Regions from separate parts of the Homo sapiens genome. Here all the other regions are reported to be linked to region 1. Evidence: microRNA targets listed by miRTarBase, many of them from high-throughput screens and not tested one by one. Region 1 holds a microRNA gene; each other region holds the end of a gene's coding sequence.
What was found. The annotated mature microRNA hsa-miR-218-5p reads UUGUGCUUGAUCUAACCAUGU and lies in region 1 at 2,591-2,611, shown strand. An mRNA with a match to its seed (bases 2 to 7 or 8) in the 3' UTR can be bound and repressed. Matches are read on the target gene's strand: a 7mer-m8 pairs with bases 2 to 8, a 7mer-A1 pairs with bases 2 to 7 and ends in A, and an 8mer does both.

Region 1 (4,068 bases):
CTGCTGAATTATATGCAGTTGTTTCTTATTTGTTTATGACTTTACATTCTTCTATATCCAGAATTACAATATAACTCCATAAAAAAGAATATTTATGTGTGATGTGAAAGCATCAGAAGTTCATGGGCACAAAATGCCTTGAATAATTTAGGCAGATGGATAAAATGTTTCTAAGAAAAGTAATCGCAATGTTTTACCACTTCAATCGTAACACTATCAAGACTGATGATTCTAGAACTAGCTCTTTAAAATACGTTTCTTTACTTATTTTTCCTTGCCTGCCAATTGTGTAAAATGCCTCTTGACTTGTTTGTTTTAAACCATTATGTTAAGTATCGATTGGCCACATTCACCGTCTCTTGGGTATATTCTAGACTATAAAAAATTTTAAGAGCTATAGATTAAAAGATATTTCTACAGCGTTAGTGTACAGAGTTAGTCTAACTTTCCATATTTTCTTAAGAAGAACTCTGGGTTTAGTCTCTATTTTAAGGAGATATTTGTTAGCTTGCCATTATTGAATTACAATTTGTATAATTTTATGGATTTAGTAGATTTGGTGATATGACTTATTTTGAGCTTGAATGATCAATAGCATTGTATATTATTATACTGGCTGCATAACAAGTAACATGTTGAAAAGAACAGTTGATTGGCCTTCATTGACAATGTTTAATATTAATTACTTTACCCAATTAAGTGGAAAGTAATCTGATAGCTATTATTTAACCAGAAAAAGCCATATTCTAAACACCAGACTACCTATAGAATAAAACATTAATATGATTTAAATCCTAAAATTATGGCAGTAATGTAATTGGTATCAAATTATTCAAACTATTTCATTTAAATATACTTAATTAATAATTGGTAAGTTTAATATTTCCAATTCACTAAATAAAGAACAAAAGTCAGGTTGTTTTCATATATTCTGATATAGTTTTTCCCTGTTACTGACAGCAGCCAAAATAGGATTTGGAAATTATCTTTTATATCAAATATCATGTCTTAAGTTTCAATTTATGATAATTTAATTTACATTCTTTAAACATGATAATTGTAGAAGCCAGGACTCAAAAGGATCATTTGGGCTTCCTCCCCTTTTTTCCAAAAATTTTAATTAAAATTTGAGTCCACCTAACAAGCCACCATAAAATAAGCATTATTACTGTTCCGTTGAATGCAGATTATTTGAATTGCAAGATATCCAGTGTACCTGTCACTTAGACTTTGTGCACTCTTATTTCATTTTGGAGTGAAGCATAAATCATAAGACACCAGATCCTCAGTAAATATCATGGCATTAACTGCCAAATGTAATGAAACGATTATATTTACCATCGCAAACTTCTTATGAGATTCTGATTCCATTTCCACTAAGACACATTATTTATAAGTTGAAAAGTTCATTAAAAAGTGTACATCACAACATAAGGATTAATCCAAATGTTGTAATGATTGTCCTTGAGGATCTCCATGATTAGTTTTTCATTCACTTTTACGTGTGTACCTCGCTACTACCATTTTATATGGCACTCTACATATTACAGTGATAAAAGAAAATCTGTCTTGCAGAGAGTTCATCTTTTTTTTTTTGGAGATGGAGTCTCGCTGTCTCCCAGGCTGGAGTGCAGTGGCATGATCTCGGCTCACTGCAAGTTCCGCCTCCCGAGTTCATGCCATTCTCCTGCCTCAGCCTCACCGAGTAGCTGGGACTACAGGCGCCCGCAACCATGCCCAGCTAATTTTTTGTATTTTTACTGGAGATGGGTTTTCACCCGTCAGGTGAAATGGTCTTGACTTCCTGACCTTGTGATCCGCCCGCCTTGGCCTCCCGAAGTGCTAGTATTACAGGCGTGAGCCACCACACCCGGCCTTGAGAGTTCATCTTTTAAAGGAATCAAGAACTTAATTTGCACTATGCATCTTTTATTACATTGGTTTTCTTGTGAGACCACCGTGCTTCAAAATATTATTTATAAAATTTTACAAAGCATGACAATTCCCATCACATCATGCTATTTTTTCAATAATTCCCATAATAAAGAAAGAAGGAAGAGAGCTTAGTTTTATAAATATGTATATTAATCTTAATTGGGATTACTCTTTCTTTCCTTCTTGGTGATCTTTACTTTTGCAGGAATTCACCATTTTGGCTGTAAGTAAAAGTGTCTGATCTGAAACATAATACCCTCCCTTTTCAATCCTGATGTACCTTCTTCTAGTCTTGGTCTTTGGCACCTTTTTTTCAAGAAGAAACCACAGATCTTTTGAGCTTCTCTGTTGTCCTTGTAGCTCACCTTCAACTTCTTCCTGGATGTTGTTCCCGAAAGCTGTTGTTTCCATTCTGCAGTTCTGAGGAATGGTGGAGGCACCTTTTCCATATAGCCCCTTCTTTGTGTTTCCAGGAAATCATCGGTAGTAATACTCTTACTGTGGTCATAAACATTCTGCGGGAAGAATGCATGTCATGTAAACAGTATTACGTTTCCAGAACGTCTGTAGCTTTTCTCCTCCTTCCCTCCATTTTCCTCTTGGTCTTACCTTTGGCCTAGTGGTTGGTGTAGTGATAATGTAGCGAGATTTTCTGTTGTGCTTGATCTAACCATGTGGTTGCGAGGTATGAGTAAAACATGGTTCCGTCAAGCACCATGGAACGTCACGCAGCTTTCTACAGCATGACAAGCTGCTGAGGCTTAAATCAGGATTTTCCTGTCTCTTTCTACAAAATCAAAATGAAAAAAGAGGGCTTTTTAGGCATCTCCGAGATTATGTGAGAGGGAGAGAATAGTAAAAAGTCCATAGAAAATTTAAAAGCCTGAGTATATCTATTTGCCTTGAAAGCCCTAATTTACAATGAGATATAGGATCATGTTTATTACTGGATATATTTTCAATTCTTGACTCCGAGAAAAAAAATAAACTTTTTAATAATTAATATCCATTGTGTGACTAGCTGTGAAGTAGGCTAGAATGACTCAGAATTGGATCAGCAGAAAGTACAGCTGTGAAAAGCTCAACTTTATTAATGTTTTCCTGTCATGTGAATCTGGTCACTCTTTTTTCCAGAAAATTCCAAGCCTTTCTTTTAACCTTTCTCCTGACATCCATTGACCAAAATACCCCAAGTTGTCTCCCTGCTACATAATCTATAGTTATCTTACTTTTTTCTTCCTACAAACTAATAAATTTTCTAACCTTTAGACTCAGTATCTTTTTTTTGGTTTGAATTCTCAATAGGTACAGAAGATTATCGATCAAAATTAAGTGGAGACTGCTTTGCGGATCTGGCTTGCCCTGAAAAGTGTCGCTGTGAAGGAACCACAGTAGATTGCTCTAATCAAAAGCTCAACAAAATCCCGGAGCACATTCCCCAGTACACTGCAGAGTTGTAAGTTCATCCCCCAACAAAATTCTGGTTGGGATGGAGGGAATGAAAGCATTAAAGCATAAGAATGTTTGTCTTGCCATTTTTATTATTAATAATTGCATTAATTTTAATTAATATGCATTACATTGGCATAACTCTATTTTGTACAAGAATATATTAGAGGCTACCTTCATTCATCTTTCTAGCCAACCATACGATTAAGTACAGAAACTAATTTATCTCTCAAAATTCAGTAAGCACTTCATACTAATAACAATGGTATTTATTTGATGCTTATTTATTGGGTATTATTTATTCCCAATTTGTTTTCTAAGTACTTAGTTTTTAACGTATTTAATTCTTATAGCAACTAAATAAAGTAGTTTGAGAGCCTCCATTTTCAATCTCTGTAAACTATCAATAGATTCAAGGAGTCTGTCTTACCTAATTTACTACTTCATTGACTTACGGGCAGAAGGATTCAGTGGTTATCAAGTATTAAAGTAGAAAGGATAGCTTTTTCTGAACAATGCAAGAAAAGCTGAAAAGGCAGAATATGATGGTATTTACACTTAACAGCCTTAACATAGGACCTTGCACATACTAAGTGCTAAGGTGTTTGTTGGAGCACTTACAGATTCTATGCCCATGCATGGTTTGCCTTTACTGACTTTATTTATAAGAAGAGGACCTTTAAT
Region 2 (4,058 bases), not on the chromosome of region 1:
CCTACAGCAGTGTGGTGAGGCTGGGGGATGGAAGAGATGGGTGGAGTTCTGGGACATCTTGGCTGATGGGAGTAGGAGAGATGGCGCCAGGGGTGGGAGAGTGGGATGGGGCTAGGGCCACCCTTGACCTCATCCTCACTCATTACAGGAGAAGAGGGACAGTCTGCCCATCGACGGCTGGAGGAGTCCCTGGACGCCCTGCCCCGCATCTTTGGGCCTGGCAGCATGGCCAGCACAGCATTCTAAACTATTCACCCATGGGTTCCTGGTGCCCCTTTCCCCCCACTTTCAGGGCTCACCAGGCACTGGCAGGGAGGGTAAGGGCTGGCTCCAGATACCCCTCCCCCACAGATTCCTAGCAATGAAAATCTAATATATTCTTCTGTTGCCCCTGGGGTTGGAGAGTCAGTGCCTGCAGTCAAGTGCCTCCCAGCCTCGGCTCAGCACATCCCTTGCCACAAATCAGTGTCTGGGGCTTGGCCACCCTGCCGCTGCCCAGCCACATCCCTTGGTTTTGTATTTTATTTACAGAGTTTTACAGAAAATAAAAAAGCAAAATGTCTTTCCTACATGGCCTGGTACACTCCTGACCCTCTGCTCCAACACCCTCTGGCTGTGGCCCTGCCTGACACTGGTGTGTTCACACTGCAGCTGTGACAGTGCCATGTGCACTTGCCCTGGAAATTCAGGTGGAAGAAAGCCCAGAGGCTGGAACTGGGCTTGGAGAAGAGAGCAGGGGAAAAGGGTGGTTCAGCCTGCAGGTGGGGCCTACCCTGGGCCTGGGAACTACGGCCCAAGGTGGAGCTAAACTGGAGTTGGCCCAGAAAACACCAAAGGGTGCCAATCCCAGGCTGTGGCCTGGGAGCAAAGGGGAAGGGAAAGGAAAAACAGGAAGGGAAAGGAGGCACGGGGTGGCTGGAGCTTCTGCCCACCAGGGGGCAGCAGATCCGCGTCAGCAGATGCCAGGTTTGGGTCTTCTGCAGCCTGGGCAGCTTTCTGCAGAGGGGGCTGAAGGAGCTCCTTGAAGCTGGATGGCAGGGGAGAGGAGCTCCTTGCGGAGGGGAAGAGCTGGGACCTGGGAGGCAGGAGACCTGGATGGCTAACCTGTGACCCAAGACAGCAAGTCCCTTCCCTCTCCAGCTGTCTCCCCCTCTATAATAACAAACGTGCCTGAACTCTGTGATCCCCAACAGCCGGCCAACCTGTGCTGCTTCAGGAAGCAGAGATCCCAGGAGAGGGCTTGCCTTTGCCCCGCCTCGCCTTGCCCCAGAGCTGCCTGGCCAGTGAATGTGTTAACCCCAGAAGGCTGAGTCCTGCGTGAGGAACTGGAGTGTGGGGTGGGACTTCAGGATGGCAGGCCTGTTCTAAGGAGGGGCTGAGGGAGGCCCACACCCGTGGCTAGAGAAACAGGCTCTCCACCCTTCCCCTCTCCCTCAGCACTTCCAGTATCCAGGGGCAAGGAGGTGGTGCATACGCAGCACTTCCCTGACTCATTGAGGCCACTCTGATGTCCCAGTACCTGTGGCAGCAGCTTGGCCTGTGCAGGACGTGTCACGTTGGGGAGCCTGCCCTCAGGAAGAGCCAGTGAAGTGCCAACAGTCCTCTGGAGGGTGACCCAGATCCCCAGGGAGCCCTGCCCCCCAGTGTTTTAGAGCTAGGTATGAAGAGGTTTGGCTGGGGCTTTAACCACCTGCTGGGGAAGCCAAGCTGAGCAGAAAAAACGGCAACAGGAAGAAGCACAGGAAGCACCTGTGTGGATGCAAGTGGCTCATTCCAGACGCTGGGGCGAGGGTGGGCAGGGGCAGGCAGGCAGCCCTCTGCACACTGGCGCGGCTCTTTGCTCTCTGGGTAACGAAGGGTGGCACGGGATGGTGCAGCTCAGTATTTGGGGTGGTGAGCTGGAGCAGCATGGGGCAGAGGAGGCAAACAAATGATGGAGACCAGGCCAGCACCCAAGGCTGGCCACAGCTGGGGCCTGCCCCAGGGGTCCCTGGAGGAGGCCGGCAATCCCAGAACCGCCCCTAGCAGCCCTCAGTCCTGAGGCCCCCACAAGAGGCCCATTGGTAGAGCAGGGCTATCCACCTGCATCAAAAGCATAGCCTGTCATGGTGGGGGAAGAGGAAGTGAACACTGGTTGACCAGGTCCTGGGAAAGTGCAGATGGGGGTGACTGAGCCTGCATGAGCTCACAGCTCAGTACACAGGAGAGAGCAGGGCTTGGGCAAGAAATGGAGGATGGAAAAATGTCATCATCCCAGCCAAGGGGTCCACTGGCGTTGTCACTAAGAATCCCTGCTCTCCAATGCTGGGAAGGGACAGACCCTAGACTCTGTGCTCTGCAGAGTCCTGAGGCCAGAGCCTAGTATTCAGCTCTAGCCAGGGGTGGGTGTGAGGATCGGAAGGGGACAGGAGCTGGAATGAGGGCACTGTGAGCACAGCCAGGTGAAGCACATGATGCCTATCTGGCTCAGAGCAGCATGAATCAACCCCAGGACAGCCAGTCAGCCTCTCTCCATCAGTGGCTTGAAGGCAGGCTGGATGGCCTCCTACACCCAGGCCCATGCCCAGGTTCCTGAGATGGTGGAGGGGCAGAGAGAACCCTTGTCCTCCCACCTCTGTATCTCTCCTGACCCCCTCTGCCTCACAGGGGCCTCCCACAGGGCAAACCTGCCCATAGCATTCTCCCACCCCCTACCCTGCTGTCATGTGGGTCAGGGAGGCAGGTGTTCCTGCTGTTTGGGACTGAGGACAGTTGGGAGCCCCTTGCCTCAGGTGATGGGCAGTTGACGATACCATCATGAGTCAAAGGTATCAGGGCAGGGAAAGCGTCTGCCCAGCCTCTGAGGGGACAGATGGAAGTGGGCCTCCAAGGCCTGTGACACACTGAGAAGTGCCCTATCAGTTAAGTCCATTGAGGCCACAGTCGCCTTGGCCATCATCTCTGAGACTCTGCCCAGAGGAAACTGCTCCACGCACACTGCAAAGCAGGGGCCAGGCTGAAGTAGTCCATGATACAGTTTATTGTGCTGGCAATCGATGGAGTGTTCCCTCTACTCTCCTCCTTTCCTCTTGCCCTCTCCCAACCTTACCTTTCCTCCTGTCTCCCACTCTTCTTCCTCATGTATTCCAAGCTGCAGAGGACCAAAAAAAGAAGAAAGAAAAAAGGCACGTTTGTGAAGGCAAAGAAAAAGATGGGTTGGCATGTGGGAAGAGGATTGCTGCTTTGTCTCGCCCACAGAGCGGGGGTGCCTTCCTTGTATGTTTCTGTGCCTGGTATGTGGGTACAATTTGCTGAACCCCAGACATATGACATGACCCTCCTTTCCCTCCATACCCCCCTCCCCACCCCAGACAATCCTGGAGTGTCCCTTTCAGGCCATCCATCTCCCATGGACAGAAGGCTCTTGGCTTGGCTGCAAGGCCTGGCTTTTCTGGGCCTGGGTGATACAGGAGGGTAAGCTTGGGAAGGACTCCAGTGCCTCATATAAACTGCTAATGAAGCACAATCTATCATTTAGAAAATAGGACTGACATTGGCCTGCGAGAAAGGGGTCTCTTGTTTCAGAAGGTTGACGGCAATTGGGTGATGGCCACTACTCTGAGTTTAATGTCAAGGGTCAAGTCTCACTTGTCTCCAGATACACCCAGGGCATATGGACACTCAGTGAATGCTGACTGAGAGCAGCTGAATTGCTATACGCAACACCTAGGTTTCTAACTGTCTCCTCTTAATTTCCTTACAACCTTCTCCTCCTCCTCAGGCATGTCTTAACATGGTGAAACCCCATGTTGTCTCTACTTAAAAAATAAAAATCGCCCCACAGGGTTCCATTCTAGGCCCTTTCCTCTCTCTCAAAACATACCCCTAGATGACCTCCCCATTCTGCTGGCTTCCATCCACATGCTGAGGCTGCATGCCAATCATTCACATGGTTCTTACCTTGCTTCCAGACCCCCACATCCAGCTGCTCACTGGACACTTCCTTTTGAACATCTGGGGCATTTCAAACTCAACATGCTCAAAATCAGACTCAACATCTTCTCAAAACTTGTTTCTCC
Region 3 (4,068 bases), not on the chromosome of region 1:
AGTTTGAGAATGCAGTGAGCTATGATCTGCACCCCAGCCTGGGCAACAGAGCAAGATCCCATCTCAAAAATAAGAAGAAGAAAATTTGATTAACAGTATTCAATGGCTGGAATGATTAAATTGTAATCAGAACAGCAGAGCTACGTAAGCTTAAAAAGAAGATGGAAAAGGCATTTTTGTCATGATGATTGATCTCTAACCTTATATATTGCAAAGTAAATATGGTTTTCTTTTTAAAATTTTGTTTGTAGCACTGGACAAGACACTGTTTCCAATCCTACTTATATGAACCAGAACTCTAACCTACAGTCAGCTACTGGTACAACTGCTTACACACAGCAAATGGGGATGTCTGTGGATATGTCATCTTATCAGAACACTACTTCCAATTTGCCTCAACTGGCAGGCTTTCCGGTGACAGTTCCAGCTCATCCAGTTGCACAGCAGCACACAAATTACCATCAGCAGCCTCTCCTTTAGAAACAAATCAAGCATTTTCTTGAAAGCCTTCATAAGTGTATTATTCAGTCCTTGTGATACCAACCTGAAAATATTAAAACTTTTTTCCCTCTCAACTCAAAAGGACCATGAATAAATAAAGCACAAAAACCTCTCTTATTCTACAAGGCCATAAAAGGTTTTTTTTTTTTTTTTTTTTCAGTCCAGTTTGTTTGAAGTCAATCTTTTCATCAGAGGCAGCTTAAAGATGCTTTCAGTTAGTTTTGTCTTACTTTCAGATTTCTCTACATAAATCTAGATACTCATTAAGTAGCCTTATGACAAACAGTATGAGATACTTATGACAAACTCGCTCTGTCACCCAGGCTGGAGTGCAGTAGCATGATCGACAGAGTGAGTTTGTCAAAAGTATCTCATACTTATAAACAGTATGAGATAGGAGGATTAAAATATTATTTTAAAGAAACCACTGTTTCCCCCTAAAATGTCATAAGAGCACTGAAGAACTTGAAATATTTTTTTCAGAGTTTCTCACACACTTTAAAAGTCTAACTTTTTTGTGTGTAAGCATTTAGCTTGCCAGCATATTTCTTTTTGGCTCCTTAAATTGCGGTTGTGTTTGCAGTATTGTCACTTTTGCTCTCACTGTTATGTTGAATAATAATTAGCATATAATTGTCTACAGAAGCAAGAGCAATCTGGAAGGAACAAAAATGTTTTCTGTGATTAACAGTGAAGACCTTGTAAATGCAGATGTGTGATAAAGCATTTAGTCAGTCCCCCAAACAGTCATGCCAACTGTGAAGGAATGTCCCACAAAACATTTCCATTCCCTGAGGAAAAACATTTTCTTTCCTACATGTATCTCTGGTATTTAGAATTGTCACTAATAACCTTTTCAAGTGATTTTGGCTATTCTCTAATGAAGATATGGTCCATTTGTTTTTCTTCCTGCAATGTGGTGTGCAGAGATGCTGCATATCCTTTTTATGGGATTGCGTGTGAATTTGAACCATGAGACATTCCTAATAATTTGTTGTGAGATATACCAAGCATGGATGATAAGTGTGTTTTTAGTGGTGTGTTGTTTTTTTAAAGAGGTGATTCAAGTACCGTTGCTAAGCTGTCAACATACCAAGCTGTTGAAAAAATTGACCATTTCTTTCAGAAGTAATTCTCAGCCTGTGGAATAATAGCAGGTGAAGACTTCATAGAAGGCGACAGATTGATAGGGAGGCTATTGAAGCAGTTTTTCTGAAGCCTGCATTTTGAGTTAGTTTATAGTGCTAATAGATTCTATATAACTGTGAGAGTTTGGTAGTAAACCAGTAGGGATTGTTTTCTCTCCTAAAAATTTGCACACTACTTCATTGTCTACCAACTTTTTACATATTGGAAAATAGAAATTGCAAATACATACATGTATGGAAACATATTCAGATTGGGAAAAACAATGGACATTAGTTTTTAAAAAGTTACGTGGAAGCAAGATTTCTATATTTGTTTTTTTAAAGGAAGCAGTCATTCTTTCTACTAAATCCATTTCAAGCTAGTTCTCTGAAAATTTTGCCATTTATCTACAGAAATTTGATTATAAATATGTTCCTTTTTCAAAGAAACTTTATTCTAGAACAAAATAGTCTATATGGTACTTGATCTACATTTAAGTGGAAAAATTAGCAGTATTTGAAAGCTCAGTTTATGTCATTGTCTTAACTTCAGATACAAATAACTGAACAGAAAGTTTTAACCTTTAATATCTCATGTTCTGTTTTTTATTCAGTATTTTCCTTTATGTTAATTCAATTATATACTTCTGAATGGCACCTTACTTTTTGGAAACAAATCTTCTGTTATTTACAAAATAATAATTTTTAAAAAACATTTAAAAAAAATCCAAAGCTGCTCTCGATAATAGTCAACATTTGCATATATATGGAATTTCTTACTTTTTTTCTCCCAAACTCTATTTAATAAACTTATTTTAATGTTTGTGTATTTCATGTATAATTGTGATCTCAATTATAAAAGTTTAATTCAGCATGTCTTTGAGCCAATATAATTACTGCACACCCACTAAATTGGGATCAGCCATTATAAATAATGTAGTTTTAGAATAATAAAACATGACACATATATATATATATAAATATATAGTATATATTGGCACATCGGTGAAAGTTTATATGTGCAGAAGTTTTTTTCTTTCTCAAGTTAAAAATTATTTTTTGCCATATGTAATTTTGTGTTGCAGGCTGTCGAGAGATAAAAATGATTTTAAATCTGTGTACTGATGATTCTTTCGGTGTTAAGAAACACAGGGTTGTGTACTTCCCTTTTTATGGGCTTATGGATTCTATTTATATTAAGACCTGTTTATAATTGTTTTCTGCCAAAGGGAATTGTCTAACTTCAGATTTCTACATTGGGTTCATACTTACTGTTTTATATCAGAAATAAAAAAATAGCTTCTGCTTTTTCATATGAAATCTTGGTACATCAGAAAGAATTCCTGAAAATTTATAATAGAATGAATTTTATTAATGCAGAAAAATACCCCAGGGTGTTAAAATATATGAAGTGTGGGATATATTCTTATAGTTTGTAAAATGTAGTCAACCAATACTGTCTTCTAATTTGGTAATTTATTTATAAAATTACTTAAACATTAGGTAATTATATTTGTTAGGATTTGAAATTATTTGTAGTTAAATTGTCATGCTGTTTGAAATAATTGATACTTGTCTACGTAATACATTTTACTGTATGTTTTGAAGATGGTTATAATTTCACTTTCAAAATTTAAAAAATCAATTTTAAATGTTTTAAAAACATATAGCTTAGGGATTTTTTTTAAAAAGGTTTTCTTAGTAAAAACATAAATTTAAAAGCCCCTGAGTTCTAGGAGAGGGCTTATTGAATTGCTATAAGAAAGCTGGAGTTACTTTGATAAGTAATAAATTATAAATAGCACTGATCTATAATGCTTTATTTCTATCGGAAGGTACTTTTTCTTCTTTCATCATCAGTTTTAGCCAGTTAGTAAATGGGAATACTCAGTTTTAGGGATTTGATTTTTGTTTGGTTTAATTTTCTTTCAAAAATTAAAAGTATATTTCTAAAAGTTTTCCCCAGAGGCCAGATACAGTGGCTCATGCCTATAATCCCAGCACTTTGGGAGCCTGAGATAGGAGTATTGCTTGAGGCTAGGAGTTTGAGACCAACCTGGCAACATGGCAAGACCCTATCTCTACAAAAATTTTAAAACTTAGCCAGGTGTGGTAGTGCACCTGTAGTCCCAGCTAGTCAGTAGGCTGAGGTGGGAGTATTGCTTGAGGCTGCAGTGAGGTGTGATCACGCCACTGCACTCCGGCCTGACAGAATGAGATCCTGTCTCAAAAAGAAAATTCCCCAGAAGAAGAATTCTAATTTTATCAAGCTGAATTAAAGTTTGAGAGTCTTTTTTTTAAAATCTTACTGTGTCAAAAGAGGCATTATGTTGCTTGTGTGATATAGTGAATAGTGTCCCTCCAAATTTCATGTACACCTGGAATGTCACAATGTGACTTAACAGTAGCCACCCCTCACCCCCGCCCTTATCTGTGGTGG
Region 4 (4,068 bases), not on the chromosome of region 1:
AAGTGCTATATTTTAAGAGACAGTGGTCTCAACTACATGCACAAGTGGATCCTAAAAAATGTATGAAGAAAATGGAAGGCCATAATATTTATGGAGAGATACTTGCTTTTAAAGCAACAAACTTTCAAGACAAGGATAGGTCCCTTACGTGCTAAAGAAAAACATTTGTACTGTGCATTTCCTCTACTTGCATGGCCAATAAATACAGCTACGACCTGTTTGAAAAACAAAACAGATGTGAACCTCTGGCATGTGCTAGCTAGTGAAAGGTTCTTTTTTAAAAACCTGTAGCAATGATAAAACAGATTAGAAAGATACAAAATTATCCTAAAGGCATAAATGCAAATAAATTTTTTATGGCAAATACAGATGAAAATATAATGGGCTAATTTATTAATGATTAAGAATATATTCACTAAGCGTTTTCATGGATTTGGGAGTCTTGTTCCTATATTAGCTTTCATTCTAGACAATTAATATTTATATAGGGAAAGGCAATAAGCAAGTTTTTTCCAGTCATTAAGTGTGACTTTTATGCCTAGTAAGACTGATGCAAGACATCTTTTCCTAAAGTTTAGTAAACAACTTTAATAAGCTCCTTTTTCCCCCTACAAGAGCTTGTAATATTAGTCAACTGGTATTCCAACTGTCTCTTAAGGGGAAAGGGCACTTTTCAAAAGTCTTTCACTAAAAAATAATAAAAGTACCAGTTAAACAAATTCTAAGTACTGAATAAGCAAATTAAAGGTACAATTAAACCTAGGAACCAATTTTTAGAGTTAAAACTTTGGAGGAGAGAACATACTATATAGGTTTTTATTATTATTGCTTTATGAATTTGGGTTACCACTTTGAATCATCATCCTACTCCTAGCATATCTTGGTATAGAGAATTACTTCTGGGGCAAGAGGAAGACTTTTATGCTTTTTAATGAATACCATGAAATTATTCTACTTTACTAAGTTAGGAATATTCATTTATTGGGTCCTTTCCATAAGCACATTTAAAAACCATCCCTCTGCTCCACAAAATATTAAAACTTATAGCCACATTGTGCAAGTAATCTCAAGAGCTGGCACAACGGATAATATACCAAAAAGGAAGATCAGCTTAAATTTCAGTTACAACTTCACTGCCATCACTACTTTAACAAATCAGAAGACGCCAGATTGCTCCATGCCTCACTCCACCAAACCAAATAATTTAATGATTTAGAAAAATTGCAATCATTTGTATCACTAAACTAGGATACAGCTTTGAAAGCAGTAAAAAACGCAAAACTTCTGCTTTTATACTCATCAGTCTTTAAAGCATGCTATTAAAATCTAATACTCACATAGGACATTCAGTTTTCAGATCACGTTACTAGCTAAATGTTTCTCTTCATTCTATTGCAATTCTAACATACAATGAATTTATTAGTACATGATTTTAAACATTTTTATTGTACTCTTTTAATGTGTTTATATTGGAGGTGAGGGTAGAATGTTTTATAAAAGGAAAATGGGGATTTGCTTTTGATTGTAGGTCTTTGCAGATCCGCTGGTTCCTGAGTGATAATACACAGTGCTGGCTGTCAGGAGACAGTCTCCTTGTTTATTAGCAATGACCAGCTTGGATGACAGATGGCATCTGCTGGATGGCAAGTGGGAGATGGGGAAATCGGATCTTGGAAGACAAGAAAAAATTAAAAAAAAAAAATTTTTGCTTTAACAGCCTTCTCTTCATGATTATTTTTAAAAGCAAATGTTGCCTGAGAAGAATTTTACTTTGCACAGCCTGGTAAAGCTCTTCTGGACAGAAAAATAAAAACAAGAAATAACCCAAACCCACACACTTTGTGATTAAACCCCTCCCCAACAAAATAACAAAAAACACCCTCAAAGGCAGGTCCCGTTAAAAACTAGTCTGGATAAACTGGAATTTACCCTAGAATTTATACCCAAGATTTAAAAACACCCCTGCAATAATCACATTACCTTTCATACCATTCTAATTACCTTATTTACAAAGATAACTAAAGCCAACATCACTTCCAATTCATAAATGGTTTACATTGAAATGTATCCCTATTTGTCTTCATCCTTTGTAACAGAGAATACATACATATACATATATATAAGGAATAATACAGATTCTAACTAATCACTGCAGTATTTGCTGATGGTTACTTTTCTATCGGTTTACACAGTGACCTCTATACTTTGCTAATATGCATTTAACTACACAACAATATTGCACAAAGTAATATTTATATAAGATTTAACCTATTTCAGAATATTTTAGAGAAAATTCATATTTGATATTTCAAAAGATGCAGCTAAGTTTTCATGGTGACAGACATAATAAAGCAGCATCTTGTATTTTTTTTTTTTTTTGCCTATGTTAATGTAAATATTTCAAATCTTACCATCCAGGAAAAAAAAAAAATCTCCAAATTGCACTGTAACCAGGGAGATATAAGAATCTGGTCTTAGGTGTGGGGAGTACTCTTCCATTAATAAACAAAAGGCCTACTGTATTATTAACTAAGAGAAAGTATAATGTGAATCATGTTAACATTCTAAAATAACAGAAAGTTAGGACCATACTAGCAATGTGAACTGTGCCTGTTTGAAAAGAAAATTTAAATACTCAGGCACTAAGCATTAGCCTACCTGAAACTCTAGGATGAAGTCTAGTGCTGTATTCTTTCTTAGAAAATAGCAACACAGAGTAATAGTAAATAAACCCAGGTATTCACCAGTTAAAACTGTGAATTGAAGTGTCTCAGTAGTAGATATTTATCATGAAGAGGTTGATGCCAAGTGACAAGAATAGTTTATCATAAGATTGATGCTCAAAATATGGCAGCCTCATCAGAAAGACTATTATTATTCTCTAAGTTTAATAGTTGTGATCAGTTTAGGAAGCAAAATTATCCCCACAAAATGTGAGGATGCCAGGAAGCAGAACAATAGAGTATCATGTCAACATTATCTCTTTTACCCAAAATATCTTCAACAGTTAGCATATATTCTAGAAGAGATTAATGAGCCATGGATAATGAATGACCAAGGACTATTCATCTTTAGATTTTTTTTTTAATTGAAATATCCACTGGGCTTTAAATAACAGATACAAAAAAAAGACAGTTTGGATCAGAAAGTGCTGTGCTTTCTCTTTTGTTAAGAAACCAGAGAGCCACTGAAATTTCCTTGGAAACTACTTGTTATTTGTGGTTAGAACTAAATAACTTACTTGCCCATGTACCAGATGCAGAAATTCTTTCCTGCAACCTATGCCATTTTCACTGTAGAAATTGAACCTGTGCCATAAAGACACAAGTACTAAACCATAAATCTTATTTATCCATAAAAACAGCAAATATGGCAAGAGACAAGGCAAGATAAAATTAAGGGAAGTGAATAATTTACCAAACAAGAATCTGTTATTCCAGAGAATTCTCATTTTGATTTGAAGAAGAGATTGAATTGTTACCTCACACCTTAAAACAGAAAGTAGCAGCAGACCCACTATTACATACTGTACTAACGGGATAAGATACAACTCTTAACTTTGCATAATCTGTGTAAAAAAGATATGCTTGACATTTGTGGAATGTCATTTCTCTTTATAGAATTATAGGCAAGATTTCTCCAATAAAACTTAACTTAAGCCAGTTATAAAACTATAACTTCACATCAAAATTTAAAAAAGTTAAAAAATGTGTTTGAATATGTACATATCACACAGAAGTGGTTGAATGTTCTTGCAGATTGTGTTGCTGGTCAGAGTCCAGTCTACTTTCCACTTTTAAAACTGGAATAGGCTGAGTCTTCTGATCTTGCTGTAGATTAAGTTCTGATGCAGGTGGGAAAGATGATGAAGCAGTTGTTAACAGCTGAATCTCTGTGCATGCTTCTTCAGATTCAGTTTTTATCCTCACACATTGGGAGTCAACTTCTAATTCTCGCTTTCCAGTTAAACCACAGTCCATGTTAGAATTGCTTTCTGTGTTTTGAGTGGCTTCCACAACAGGGTGGTACTGTTTAAGCCTTATATGCCAGGCTAAGCTGCACACCGCC
Region 5 (4,068 bases), not on the chromosome of region 1:
CATCACTTCTCCCTGGGATGTTAAACCTGGATTAAATTCTGCTTTCAAGCTATTAATAATGATTCTTATAAAATGATCTCTTTATTGCTTTCTTTCTGTTTCTCATGAATTAAGGTTTCCCTAGGACTTCTGCATGCCCATGCCACACATATCCTGTGGCCCCCAGAGCGCTGGCAGAAATTGGAATCTGTTCTTCCTCCAGAGCGCTTACCAGTACAGAGAGAAGAGGAATGACTGCATGAATCTACCTGAGTTGCTGGCATTGGGAGGCCAGTTACTGGAAAGGAATGGAAAAAAGAAGCCTCCAAAAGGGAAAAACTTCTGACAATATGATGCTGTGCGAGAAATATTTACAGCACATTAAAACGATCTGTATTATTAAATAAATAATTTTCAAATGTTAAACAGTATTAAATGGCACCTGATTTTGTGTTAAATTTTAGTTCCCTGTTGTTTAATGCCCCCAAAATATGCAGACCTTTGGGAATATAAAAATATTGCACCCACATGTCTTAATGGGGCTGAATTTCAGATTATTTGTTACATATACTTATTATATTGATTGTTGGGTTTTGATTTTGGTGCTTGCTGCTGAAATAAATTGAAAATTAATATTCAATAAAAATGATGTATTTGTCACTTGCTGTTAAGGTAGAACAAGAAGGAACACATATTATACACATAATGATGGGAATTACATTGTGATTTGTACTATCTACAAAGGAGTAACTGCCAGTTAGGAAGAACAGTAAACAGTGATGTTAAAATAAAACAATGATTTGCTAAGGTCCTGTTTTGAGTATTTAATTCTCATTGAGTACATCCATTAATGAGGAATTTCTTATCTCTTCTGAAAATAAGGAATCAAAGTAATGGAGAACCCATTCTGTCGACACTTGCATACAGTCAAGCCTTTCTTATTGGCCCTTTGTAATCCAACATTTCTGAGTGATCTCATGCCTATTCACAATGATGGGTAAACCCCTTTATCCGCATTTAGTCATACTATGTGTTTAAAAGTTCTGAGTGAAATAGAAGAAAAAACAGTCCAGATCAGCCACGTTTGATTTTCTTCCCCTAATTATTTCTCAGTATTCACGTCTGTAATACTGAAATCACCAATTGCAAAGTTACAGTAGAATCATAGAGTCTGTAATTTGTATGGATAATGGAATAAATTCCCTGCATCTAAGTCCATGTTTATGAAAGCTTCTTTTTCTCCCATTGGTTAGAGGTTTGTGTAAATTATTATTAGCATAATCATATTCAACAAATATTAATGAGCACTTACATACTAATGTTGGACAGAATTTTTTTTAAAACAGATCTGCTTAAAATTTTTCTGTGGCTCTTCATTGCCCTTCTCAATTCTTCAGTTCCATTTTCTCTTTTCCCCAACTCGAACTTCATACCCTGGCTTTTAACTGCAGTTTACCAAATACTGCTATTTCAAAGCTTGTAATTTTTTTCTTTCTTGGCAAAGTGCATCCCTTGGAATTATGTGTAAAATGTTTAGTACATAAGGGTATTGACTCTTTACTTGCTGGAACACAGGAGGGTCTATGGGTCATATAGGAGGGGATTGGGAGTACTGAGGGGAGGTAGAGTAAAGAACAAATAGACAGGTGCTGGTAGTGACTGCTATTTACCACTGGTATAGAAGAGTTCAATATTTTAACAGTTTACCCCATTGGCTATCAGCCTTGCTACCTTATTGACTACCCGTGCCATTGTTACTCGAACTATTCATTCAAGATTGTATATCTTTGGAGGGAAGGTAAATGCTCTTTCTATTCAATTTTCTATTCACTAGCCATCCAGCACATCACCAGCAGAGTTAATGCCTAATGCTTGTTGAACAGCTCAGCTGACTAGTTACTTCCTCAGGAATACATCCCCAGGCAAAGTCACTGCTCTACCTGGTATATACCTTCATTAATGTATCACTCTGCATGTTAATGATTCGTGTACATACTTTCTCCCCTACTAGACTGTGAACTAGTAGTCTAATCTAGAGCAGGGTTTATCTTGCTCAACTTGGTCATACGATTGCTCATAATTGACAATAAAATCCTGTCCAATCAATGTATGAATCCTAGGCACTGTGTTAAGGACAGGAAAATCAAAGTAGATAAAACAAAGGTTCTCATAGTCGACTGGTGGGGGCAGGAGGAACTGTAAAGAGGCAAAGAGTTAACATACAATTCCGCAGTAGGTATAGAGCATGGAATAGGTGCAATGGGAGCAGAAAGGGCTGTAAATCTGATTGTGCCTGGGGAAATAGGGATGGGAGAAACCACCACAGGAGGGGTGCCACGGGCTGAGCCTTCTAGGATGAATGGAGTTCCCCTCCTGTGAATTATAAATTTAATCTGTATAAACGATTTCAGTTACTTAAATAGTTTCCTCTCAAACATTACTGCTAGTTTACTGTTCAGGGTGTAGTGTGTGTATTATGTTTTATACATTTAATTTGTAAAATGTGAAATAATGATTGTACCTCAGGAATATTGAGATTTGTAATTAATTTTTTTTCACTTTTTACAACAGTCATTTCAAACAATTTTACCAAGTAACTTATAAAAATGTGTTATATATCGGATGTTCCAAGATGGCCAAATAAGAACAGTTGCAGTCTACAGCTCCCAGCATGAGCAATGCAGAAGATGGGTGATTTCTGCATTTCCAACTGAGGTACTGGGTTTCTCTCACTGGGACTTGTCGGACAGTGGGTGCAGCCAACAGAGCAGGGCGGGCATCGCCTCACCCAGGAAGTGCAAGGAGTCAGGGAATTCCCTTTCCTAGCCAAGGGAAGCCATGACAGATGATACCTGGAAAATCGGGACACTCCCACCCTAATACTACGCTTTTCCAATGGTCTTAGCAAATGGCACACCAGGAGATTATATCCTGCGCCTGGCTCACAGGGTCCCATGCCCACAGAGCCTCGCTCACTGCTAGCATGGCAGTCTGAGATCGAACTGCAAGGTGGCAGCAAGGCTGGGGGAGGGGCGTCCACAATTGCTGAGGCTTGAGTAGGCAAACAAAGCAGCTGGGAAGCTCGAACTGGGTGGAGCCCACTGCAGCTCAAGGAGGCCTGCCTGCCTCTGTAGACTCCACATCTGGGGGCAGGGCATAGCTGAACAACAGGCAGCAAAAACTTCTGCTGGCTTAAACATCCCTATCTGACAGCTTTGAAGAGAGTAGTGGTTCTCCAAGCACAGAGGTTGAGATCTGAGAACGGACAGACTGCCTCCTCAAATGGGTCCCTGACCTCCGAGGAGCCTAACTGGGAGACACCTCCCAGTAGGGGCCGACTGACACCTCAAACAGCTGGGAGCCCCTCTGAGATGAAGCTTCCAGAGGAAGGATCAGGCAGCAACATTTGCCGTTCTGCAATATTTGCTGTTCTATAGCCTCCACTGGCGATACCCAGGCAAACAGGGTCTGGAGTGGACTTCCAGTGAACTCCAACAGACCTGTAGCTCACGGTCCTGACTGTTAGAAGGAAAACTAATAAACAGAAAGGAAATCCACACCAAAACCCCATCTGCACATCACCATCATCAAAGACCAAAGGTAGATAAAACCAAAAAGATGGGGAGAAACCAGAGCAGAAAAGCTGAAAATTCTAAAAATCAGAGCAGCTCTTCTCCTCCAAAGGAACACAGCTCCTCGCCAGCAATGGAACAAAGCTGGATGGAGAATGACTTTGATGAGTTGAGAGAAGAAAGCTTCAGACGATTGGTAATAACAAACTTCTCCAAGCTAAAGGAGGATGTTCAAACCCATCGCAAAGAAGCTAAAAACCTTGAAAAAAGATTAGACAGATGGCTAACTAGAATAAACAGTGTAGAGAAGACCTTAAATGACCGGATGGAGCTGAAAACCATGGCACGAGAAATAACTTAATGCATGCACAAGCTTCAGTAGCCAATTTGATCAAGTGGAAAAAAGGGTATCAGTGATTGAAGATCAAATGAATGAAATGAAGTGAGAAGAGAAGTTTAGAGAAAAAAGAGAAGAAATGAACAAAGCCTCCAAGAAATATGGGACTATGTGAAAAGA
Region 6 (4,068 bases), not on the chromosome of region 1:
GTGCGAGAAGAGGTTTACGTGTAATTCCAAGCTAGTCATCCACAAGAGATCACACACAGGCGAGAGACTCTTTCAATGTAATCTCTGTGGGAAGCGCTTCATGCAGCTTATTAGCCTCCAATTTCACCAGCGAACCCACACTGGCGAGAGGCCCTACACGTGTGACGTCTGCCAGAAGCAGTTCACCCAGAAGTCCTACTTGAAGTGTCACAAGAGAAGCCACACAGGGGAGAAGCCCTTCGAATGTAAAGACTGCAAGAAAGTTTTCACCTACAGGGGGAGCCTGAAGGAGCACCAGCGCATCCACTCCGGAGAGAAACCCTACAAATGTTCCAAGTGTCCAAGAGCCTTCAGTCGGCTGAAATTGTTAAGACGCCACCAGAAAACACATCCAGAAGCTACTTCTCAGTGATTGCATAATCCGGTCTATGCCTTCTGCACCAAGAAGAAGTGAATGATATTTTTCATCAATGTTATCAGATGACATTTGACACATGCAAGGGCGTCTGACACACAGAGGGAGTGCCCTAGATATGAATTGCCAGGATGTTTGAGTAAATATGTGTCCTCCCCACTGAGCTTTGTTTTCTGTTTCATTATGTCCATTGTTTTCTTATAGGTTTATTTTGGTTTGTGTTGCTGTTCTTCCAATAAACGATCATCTTATTAGTTTTCAATATTGTATAACGGAAAACTGAGTTTCCTGATTGACATGGGGTTACCCACTGTTTTGCTGTAAAGTACAGTTGTCCAAGGAGGGTGGCCATATAAAATACATAATGCCTGATGAAATTTGAGTTTCAGATAAACAATTTTCTTTAGTATCAGCATGTTCTAAATTATTTATTTATCTGAAACTCAGCTTTTATTGGGTATCCTGTAGAGTTTTCGTTTTCTTTTTTCTTTCTTTCTTTTTTTTTTTTTTTGAGATGGCGTCTCCCTCTGTCACGCAGGCTGAGGTTCAGTGGCATAATCACCGCTCACTGCAGCCGCGACCTTCCAGGCTCAAGCAATCCTCCCATCTAAGCCTCCCGAGCAGCCGAGACTACAGGAGCACGCCACCAACTTGGCTAATTTTTGTGGTTTTTGTAGAGATGGAATTTTGATATGTTGCCCAGGCTGGTCTTGAACTCCGAAGTACAAGTGATCCAACTGCCTCGGCCTCCTTAAGTGCTGGCATTACAGGCATGAGCCGCTGTGCCCTGTATTGTTTTTATTAGACTTTATTATAATTATGATATTCAAATTTTTGAAATAATTTTTTGTAGTGATGGGATTTCTTGTTGCCCAGGCTGGTGTGGGGTGAGCCACCACGCCTGGCTCTAGACTTTCTTTTTCAGAGCTGTTTAGGTTCACAGGGAAATTCAGTGGACAGCACAGAGTTCCCCTAGACTCCCTCCTCACACAACACAGCCTCTCCCTGCCCAGCATCCCCAGCAGAGTGGTGCACCTGTTCCATCAGTGAGGCTGCCTGGACATATCACCACCACCCAGAGTCCATAGTGTTCATTAGGGCTCGCTCTGGGTGTTGTACGTGCTGTGGGTTTGGACAAAGGCCTCATGAGTACACACCACTGGAGTATCCTGGGGGGTATTTTCACTGCCCCCGGAATCCTCTCTGCTCTGCATATTTATCTCCCTGCCCCAGATGGTGTATTTTGTGGCCTAAATTTGGCAACCTCTAAATTCCCGATTTGACTCTTGAACTACAGAGGCATTGGGAGTCTCTGGTGACTAGTTGGTCTTAGTGATACTACCATCCCCTGAAGGCGTGGTTAATCCTCAGGTGGGTGGGCCCCAGACTCAGCTTCTGATTGAGCAGACCGGGCATGGGGCCTGAGAGTGTGCATTAAAATATATAATTCATTTTAGAATAGCTTTCTAAAGTCCATGGAGCTCCCTAATGCCCCACATGGCTTCCCCCATTGCCAACATGGTTCATTAGGATGGCACCTTTGAACTGACTGGAGCGATGAACTGACTGGATATATTGCCGTGATCTAAGGCCCATACCTTATTGAGGCCTCCTTAGTGTTTACACAATGCCCTCCTCTTCCTTCCTCCCCATCCAAGACACCACATTGCCTTGAGTTGTCACGTCTCCCTAGGATCCTCTTGGTGACAATTTCTCAGATTTTACTTGTTTGGGATTACCTGAGAATGTACATTTTAGGTGGTGCTCATGCTGCTGGTCTTGGGAGGACATTTTATGGATGGCTGATTGAGCTGACGGGCAGAGTCCTGCAATCTGCAGAGGTCTGGAAAGGTCCCTTCCCAAATAGGCTGGATTCATTTATTAAAGACTACTTTTGTAAGACTTTGGTTCTTGTCATCTTAATTTAAAGGAATTTAATCAAGAGACCCACAGCAGAGAGATGCATCATAGAATAATTGATTACAGAGGAAATACAATATCTTGAAAGTTAAGGGCAGAATAGACAGGACATCCTGGGAGCAAGGATTCAGGGCCAGCTGCTCCCAAGGATGAGACAGCAAAGACCTGCTTGAGGGAGACTCCCCTTTATGGGAGTCTTGGATGATTACACCTAGGGGGGTGGGAAGAGGTGTTACTACTAAGCATATTCTGGGTGCTCTTCTGGGCACACAGGTGCAGTAGCTGTGCACATGTCTCATTAGCGTCTTAACTGCCCGCCCAGGTGTGTGTTTTTTACTATCATAACAAGAAATGTGTCGGTTTGTGGATGGGTAAGATCAACGTGCACATTCTCTCTACAGTGGAAATACTACAGTGGAAATACCCTACTGGAGATGGCCTTGCTTGAATGAACTCAATTCCAATGTGAACGCTGAGGCTTACTGTGTTGACTGTACAGTCACCACGCGTGCAGCATCCTGAGGACGTGGTCATTTCCTTGACTGCCTATCCTGCCTCACCCAGGTCCGTTTCGGAGTAGCATTCTTTGAGGCAGGGACCTGGAATCCACCATAAAATGTACATAGACTCCCCTTTCATTCAAGAAGTGGAGGTAGGGGTGGGTGGTGGTTCTCCCTTTTGGTGATTGGGTCCAACCTTCTTCACAGACGTAGAAAATGTGTTGATAATACCACCTGCCCGTTTAATTTCAATCATGGTGCTCTATGATCCATTAATGACATCCAATGTTTCTTTAGAGCTTCATTTTCTAATTTGGCTACATGTTGGAGTCACTTGAGGAGTTTTTAATATTTTTTTTAAAAGCAATGCCTGGGGTCCAGCCCTAAGGTAATGATGTGATTGGCTGAGGATGTGGCCCCTGTGTTGAGAGTTTATAAAACTCCGCAGGTGATCTAACGTGTGGCTGAGTCTGGCAGGTCGATTTTCTTTTTTTTTTTTTTCTTTTTTTTTGAGACAGAGTCTTGCTCTGTTGCCCAGGCTGGAGTGCAGTGGCGCGATCTCGGCTCACTGCAAGCTCCGCCTCCCGGGTTCATGCCATTCTCCTGCCTCAACCTCCCGAGTAGCTGGGACTACAGGCGCCCGCCACCACGCCCAGCTAATTTTTTGTATTTTTAGTAGAGACGGGGTTTCACCATGTTAGCCAGGATGGTCTCGATCTCCTGACCTCGTGATCCACCCGCCTCAGCCTCCCAAAGTGCTGGGATTACAGGCATGAGTTACTGTGTGTGTTCACGGTGCCTGGCCCGGGTTCCTTTTCTGCCAGCTTGGAAGGGCAACCCCATGACTGAATGTGATTCTTAGGATGGCTCCGCATTTACATCCTTGTTACAGTGCATCCACCTGAAAGGCTGCACACCTGAACTGGGACTGTTAACACCCATGCCAATACAGTGTGGGGTGCCAAGAAGTGTCTGCTGATATTTGTGGGGAAAAAAATCTATTTTGTTCACCTACTGTATCAAAGGAAAATTTGGGGGAGAACAGTGGTATTGTTTTAAATCAGGGGTGAAAACAAGTTACAGATCTGAAAAAAAAAAAAAGACTGGAGGGCGATTTCTTAGAAAAGCAGAGGGATTTGGGGTCTCGGCCTTCGGGCTCCATCCAGCGCCATCGGCCTGGCGCTGCCGCCAACGCGGGCATGGATGGGCCCCTTCTTCGCAGACAGCATTGGA
Region 7 (4,065 bases), not on the chromosome of region 1:
AGACTTGGAGATAGACGCTTTGAGCAGTGAAGCTGGCTTCAAGTAGGATAAGGATAGACTCACATGAGTCCATGAGAGCCCTAGGCTGGTGCAGTCAGTGATGGATCACAGCTGGTTTGTGGGAAGGAGGGGCAGAGGGGAAGTAACCCAACATTTGGGGGATTTGCAGTAGTCCCAAAGGAGGACCAGGATGTAGTGTGTGGTGGCTGCATGGAATTCAGTAGCTGTGCCACAATAACTTGGGGCCTTACTGTTTGCAGACAGCATCTGTCTGGGAAGTTCAGGGTGGGAGGGTTGAAGTTATATTGGTGGTACCCAACTTTTATCCGCATATTCTTCAGCCCCCAGAGTGTGAAAGGCCGGAATGACACCTTTTACCTGACACCTGAGCCAGTGGTGGCCCCCAACAGCCCAATCTGGTACTCAGTCCAGCCTATCAGCAGAGAGCAGATGGGACAAATGCTGACGCGGATCCTGGTGATAAGAGAAATTCAGGAGGCCATCGCAGTGGCCAATGCAAGCACTATGCACTGAGATGCCTTGGCCATGGCACAAGAGAAACCAGCCAGGAAAAACCAGACAGACTTTCACACTAAAGAAGAGGCCTCCATTTTTTTTTTTCTTTTTTTTATTGGTGTAGTTACGAAGCCTTTCAGGCTGCTTCTGTTTAAAATATAAAAGAAAACTTTGCCCCCTTTGCATCTTCATAAACCTGCTGCGGCAGACTCCTCAGCCGATGGTGGCTCTGGGTTTCCTTGAGTGTCATATGTCCTAGAAAGTTGCTGGCTGACTCTTTTTTGTCTGGGGCCTGGGGAAAGGGCTTGGACTGTGAAAAGAAATGTGGCCCCTTTCCATCTTCAAGAGAGATGGAATTAATGATGGATGGACCCTGGAGGGAATCTCCCCAGCCGACTTCCACTGGGCTGACAGACTTTGCTGACCACAGGGGAACGATGTTCTTTTCTTTCTTCATGATCAGACATAAACTTAGCATCTTAATGGAAGAAAAATGAGGGGAACTTCAATTATGATTTATTAAAGACAATTTCTATTACACCCTCCTTTATGACAAGTGACATTTTAGATGTAAAAGTAAAAACTTTACCATGCCTTTTTTTTTTTTGTTGGCCTAACATTGAGGCCTTAAAACCTGAGGCTCCTGTGCCTGATGGAATTCTTGTAACATACACTTGTGTATCATATAAAGATACCACTCTGTTTCTCTTATGTATTCTTACTCTAGTTGTTTATTAAGAATGACAAGCACGTCTTTTCAACATGTTAGTGAACAACGTCTCTTTATTTTGGGGAGGAGCCCGGCGGGACAGTAGAAGTAAACCCTTGCCTGTTAATTGAACTGGCCGAGGTCCTGCGGGGAGTGTGGGGTGGGACGTGAAGTGGCAGCTCCTCAGTGACAAGGCCACTATGTGCTATACGCATGCGCTGTTTCTTCAGCGCCAGCTCCGCCCCCGCCGCAGCGAGGCGGGTAGGTTCCGCCCGCGCGCACTACGCCCTGACGTCAGCGTCGCGCGCAGCGCAGTGACGAAATCGGCTGGTTTATATTGGCGCGGCCCAGACGGCAGAGGTCTCTGCGGCGCGGTCCTCGGAGACACGCGGCGGTGTCCTGTGTTGGCCATGGCCGACTACCTGATTAGTGGGGGCACGTCCTACGTGCCAGACGACGGACTCACAGCACAGCAGCTCTTCAACTGCGGAGACGGCCTCACCTACAAGTGCGGGCCTATGGGGCTCACCTGGGCGAAGAGAGGGGCGGCACCCTGGGGAAAAGGCCAGATGGGGGCTTCCGAGAGCCGCCTTGGGCGTGGGCGTGGGGGACAGGTTTCGGGAATTGGCCACCCACCTCCGGGGCTCACTTTGAGACATCTGGAGCGGTGCTTGGGGTACGGAGAAGCATCTCAGTAGTGCTTGGAATCTCAGGCCGGAGATTCCATGCTCCAGACACATGGAATTGTCAGGGTGCCAGGAGCACTGATGACAGCTCGGTGGCAGAAAAGGTCCCCTGTACCCATTTCCACCTTGTGCTGTGCCTGTGACACACAGACTCTGTCAGTGCCACTCTCTGCTCACATGCGTTACGGGTTGATTGGTACATGGGGATGGAGTCTCATGCTGCCCTAAGCTGAGAGCTTTACTCCCAATTCACTCCCTTCCCTCGCAGTGACTTTCTCATTCTCCCTGGGTACATCGACTTCACTGCAGACCAGGTGGTGAGTATGATCAGGAATTGGGTCCTGAACATCAAGGTGAGCTAAGGTGCTACTATCACCTGGTCTCTGGGCTAACTCACCAGATTGGGCTTGGGGGTGGATTTTATAGGATCATGTTGCTTGTTAGCATGCAGGTCATACAAAAGTGCCTTTTTGTGGGGGACTCAGTAACACCTTGAGGTGTAAGGGATGCTTTCCCACACTGGTTGACGTTTGTCTCCTCAGGACCTGACTTCTGCTCTGACCAAGAAAATCACTCTTAAGACCCCACTGGTTTCCTCTCCCATGGACACAGTCACAGAGGCTGGGATGGCCATAGCAATGGCGGTGAGCCCCATGGGGTGTGGGGGAAGGAGCAAGGACTCCATCGCCTTTCCCCAAAGGCATTCAGTCCTGCTTCTTGTCACTTAGTAGTAGTCTCTTTTTATCCTGTAGCTTACAGGCGGTATTGGCTTCATCCACCACAACTGTACACCTGAATTCCAGGCCAATGAAGTTCGGAAAGTGAAGGTCAGAAGGGCAACGATCATTAGCAAGCGCTCCTGGGAATTGCACTGAGGTGGGGTGGGGTGGGAGTAGGGGTTTATTCTAATTTAGTATTCTTTCTTCCCACCATGGGGTTCAGTTACTGAGAAGACCCTGAGATTCTGTTTCTTAAAGCAGCAGCAATAGACCAGGTGTACAGTGCCTCCAGCCTACCCATGTCTCTAAGATGTGTTGGTGTGATTTGGTCTTGTGGCACTGCCAAAGGGATCGATAAGCAGAGACCCCATGCTTCAGATCAAGAGCCTGATGAAAGTAGTTCAAAGATGCGATGCCCTTTCTCACCATCCCTTTCCAGAAATATGAACAGGGATTCATCACAGACCCTGTGGTCCTCAGCCCCAAGGATCGCGTGCGGGATGTTTTTGAGGCCAAGGCCCGGCATGGTTTCTGCGGTATCCCAATCACAGACACAGGCCGGATGGGGAGCCGCTTGGTGGGCATCATCTCCTCCAGGGACATTGATTTTCTCAAAGAGGAGGAACATGACTGTTTCTTGGAAGAGGTGGGTGCCACTGGCAGAGTAGATCCAAGCTCTAGCAGCCCAGGTTGAAGACAAGGGGCTTCTGTTGTCTAAGACATCTCTGATAGCCTCTTCTCTCTGGGAAAGGAGTGTCAAACCAAGTTTCTGACTCCTTTATTGGGTTCCTGCATCCTTTCCCCACCAGAGGCTTTCAAACTGCCCAAATGCTTGCTAGTATTCATGCTTTGTTCTTTTAAACCCCTAAGGTAGGGGCAGTGCTTGAGGTCTGCCCTGATTTTCTTGCCATTGTTCCTGTGTTGTCCTCCTTATTCCATAGTGTAAGAGGGTGCTCCCTGTGCCATGTTGTCCTTTCTACTCATCCCTCACTCAATACCATACTGCTAAGAATTATTGGGATCCCTTGAGGAAGGGTGTTTTGGGTGTGAATGTATGAACGTGGTGGTCCATAGAACTTCACCCCTGTAATCTCAGTACTTTGGGAGACTGAGGCAGGCAAATCATGAGGTTAGGAGTTTGAGACCAGCCTGGCCAACATGGTGAAACCCCGTCTCTACTAAAAATACAAAAAATTAGTTGGGTGTGGTGGCGCGTGCCTCTGAGCTCAGCTACTTGGGAAGGAAAGAAAAGAGTTAACTGGTCATAGTCGATGACTGGCCCTTCTTCACATCTCACCTCCCACGTAGATAATGACAAAGAGGGAAGACTTGGTGGTAGCCCCTGCAGGCATCACACTGAAGGAGGCAAATGAAATTCTGCAGCGCAGCAAGAAGGGTAAGTCCTAGAGCTGGGAAAGGGCCTGGAACTAATGCC

Region 2: miRTarBase lists RIPOR1 as a target of hsa-miR-218-5p. The part of its 3' UTR that is shown has no 7-base or 8-base seed match.
Region 3: the mRNA of STAM2 is a reported target of hsa-miR-218-5p. Seed matches in the 3' UTR shown: 8mer at 599-606.
Region 4: miRTarBase lists RSBN1 as a target of hsa-miR-218-5p. Seed matches in the 3' UTR shown: 7mer-m8 at 3,153-3,159.
Region 5: the mRNA of IMMP2L is a reported target of hsa-miR-218-5p. The part of its 3' UTR that is shown has no 7-base or 8-base seed match.
Region 6: the mRNA of ZSCAN5A is a reported target of hsa-miR-218-5p. The part of its 3' UTR that is shown has no 7-base or 8-base seed match.
Region 7: the mRNA of QRICH1 is a reported target of hsa-miR-218-5p. The part of its 3' UTR that is shown has no 7-base or 8-base seed match.

What each region holds. Positions count from the first base shown.
Region 1 is chr4:20,525,709-20,529,776 of GRCh38, forward strand. It overlaps MIR218-1 (microRNA 218-1), which reads left to right and starts at 2,567; the gene lies at 2,567-2,676. SLIT2 (slit guidance ligand 2) reads left to right here. Exons shown (of 37, transcript NM_004787.4): 16 at 3,241-3,391.
Region 2 is chr16:67,546,218-67,550,275 of GRCh38, forward strand. It overlaps RIPOR1 (RHO family interacting cell polarization regulator 1), which reads left to right. Exons shown (of 22, transcript NM_024519.4): 21 at 1-14; 22 at 149-569. The coding sequence ends at 246. It overlaps LOC124903703 (a long non-coding RNA gene), which reads right to left. Exons shown (of 2, transcript XR_007065094.1): 2 at 3,002-3,130. Among named protein-coding and RNA genes, the nearest start is that of CTCF-DT, 14 kb to the right of the region's middle. RefSeq lists an enhancer at 780-839 and a silencer at 789-1,083.
Region 3 is chr2:152,116,986-152,121,053 of GRCh38, reverse strand. It overlaps STAM2 (signal transducing adaptor molecule 2), which reads left to right. Exons shown (of 14, transcript NM_005843.6): 14 at 252-4,068. The coding sequence ends at 480. Among named protein-coding and RNA genes, the nearest start is that of CACNB4, 20 kb to the right of the region's middle.
Region 4 is chr1:113,762,252-113,766,319 of GRCh38, forward strand. RSBN1 (round spermatid basic protein 1) reads right to left here. Exons shown (of 7, transcript NM_018364.5): 7 at 1-4,068. The coding sequence ends at 3,729. Among named protein-coding and RNA genes, the nearest start is that of PHTF1, 4.8 kb to the left of the region's middle.
Region 5 is chr7:110,659,768-110,663,835 of GRCh38, reverse strand. It overlaps IMMP2L (inner mitochondrial membrane peptidase subunit 2), which reads left to right. Exons shown (of 6, transcript NM_032549.4): 6 at 115-1,192. The coding sequence ends at 234. Among named protein-coding and RNA genes, the nearest start is that of LRRN3, 430 kb to the left of the region's middle.
Region 6 is chr19:56,217,919-56,221,986 of GRCh38, reverse strand. It overlaps ZSCAN5A (zinc finger and SCAN domain containing 5A), which reads left to right. Exons shown (of 6, transcript NM_001322064.3): 6 at 1-684. The coding sequence ends at 412. Among named protein-coding and RNA genes, the nearest start is that of ZSCAN5C, 18 kb to the right of the region's middle.
Region 7 is chr3:49,026,921-49,030,985 of GRCh38, reverse strand. It overlaps QRICH1 (glutamine rich 1), which reads left to right. Exons shown (of 10, transcript NM_198880.3): 10 at 342-1,279. The coding sequence ends at 534. It overlaps IMPDH2 (inosine monophosphate dehydrogenase 2), which reads left to right and starts at 1,588. Exons shown (of 14, transcript NM_000884.3): 1 at 1,588-1,733; 2 at 2,180-2,228; 3 at 2,454-2,555; 4 at 2,664-2,738; 5 at 3,070-3,276; 6 at 3,939-4,026. The coding sequence starts at 1,636. RefSeq lists enhancers at 1,588-1,797, 1,251-1,852, 1,853-2,455.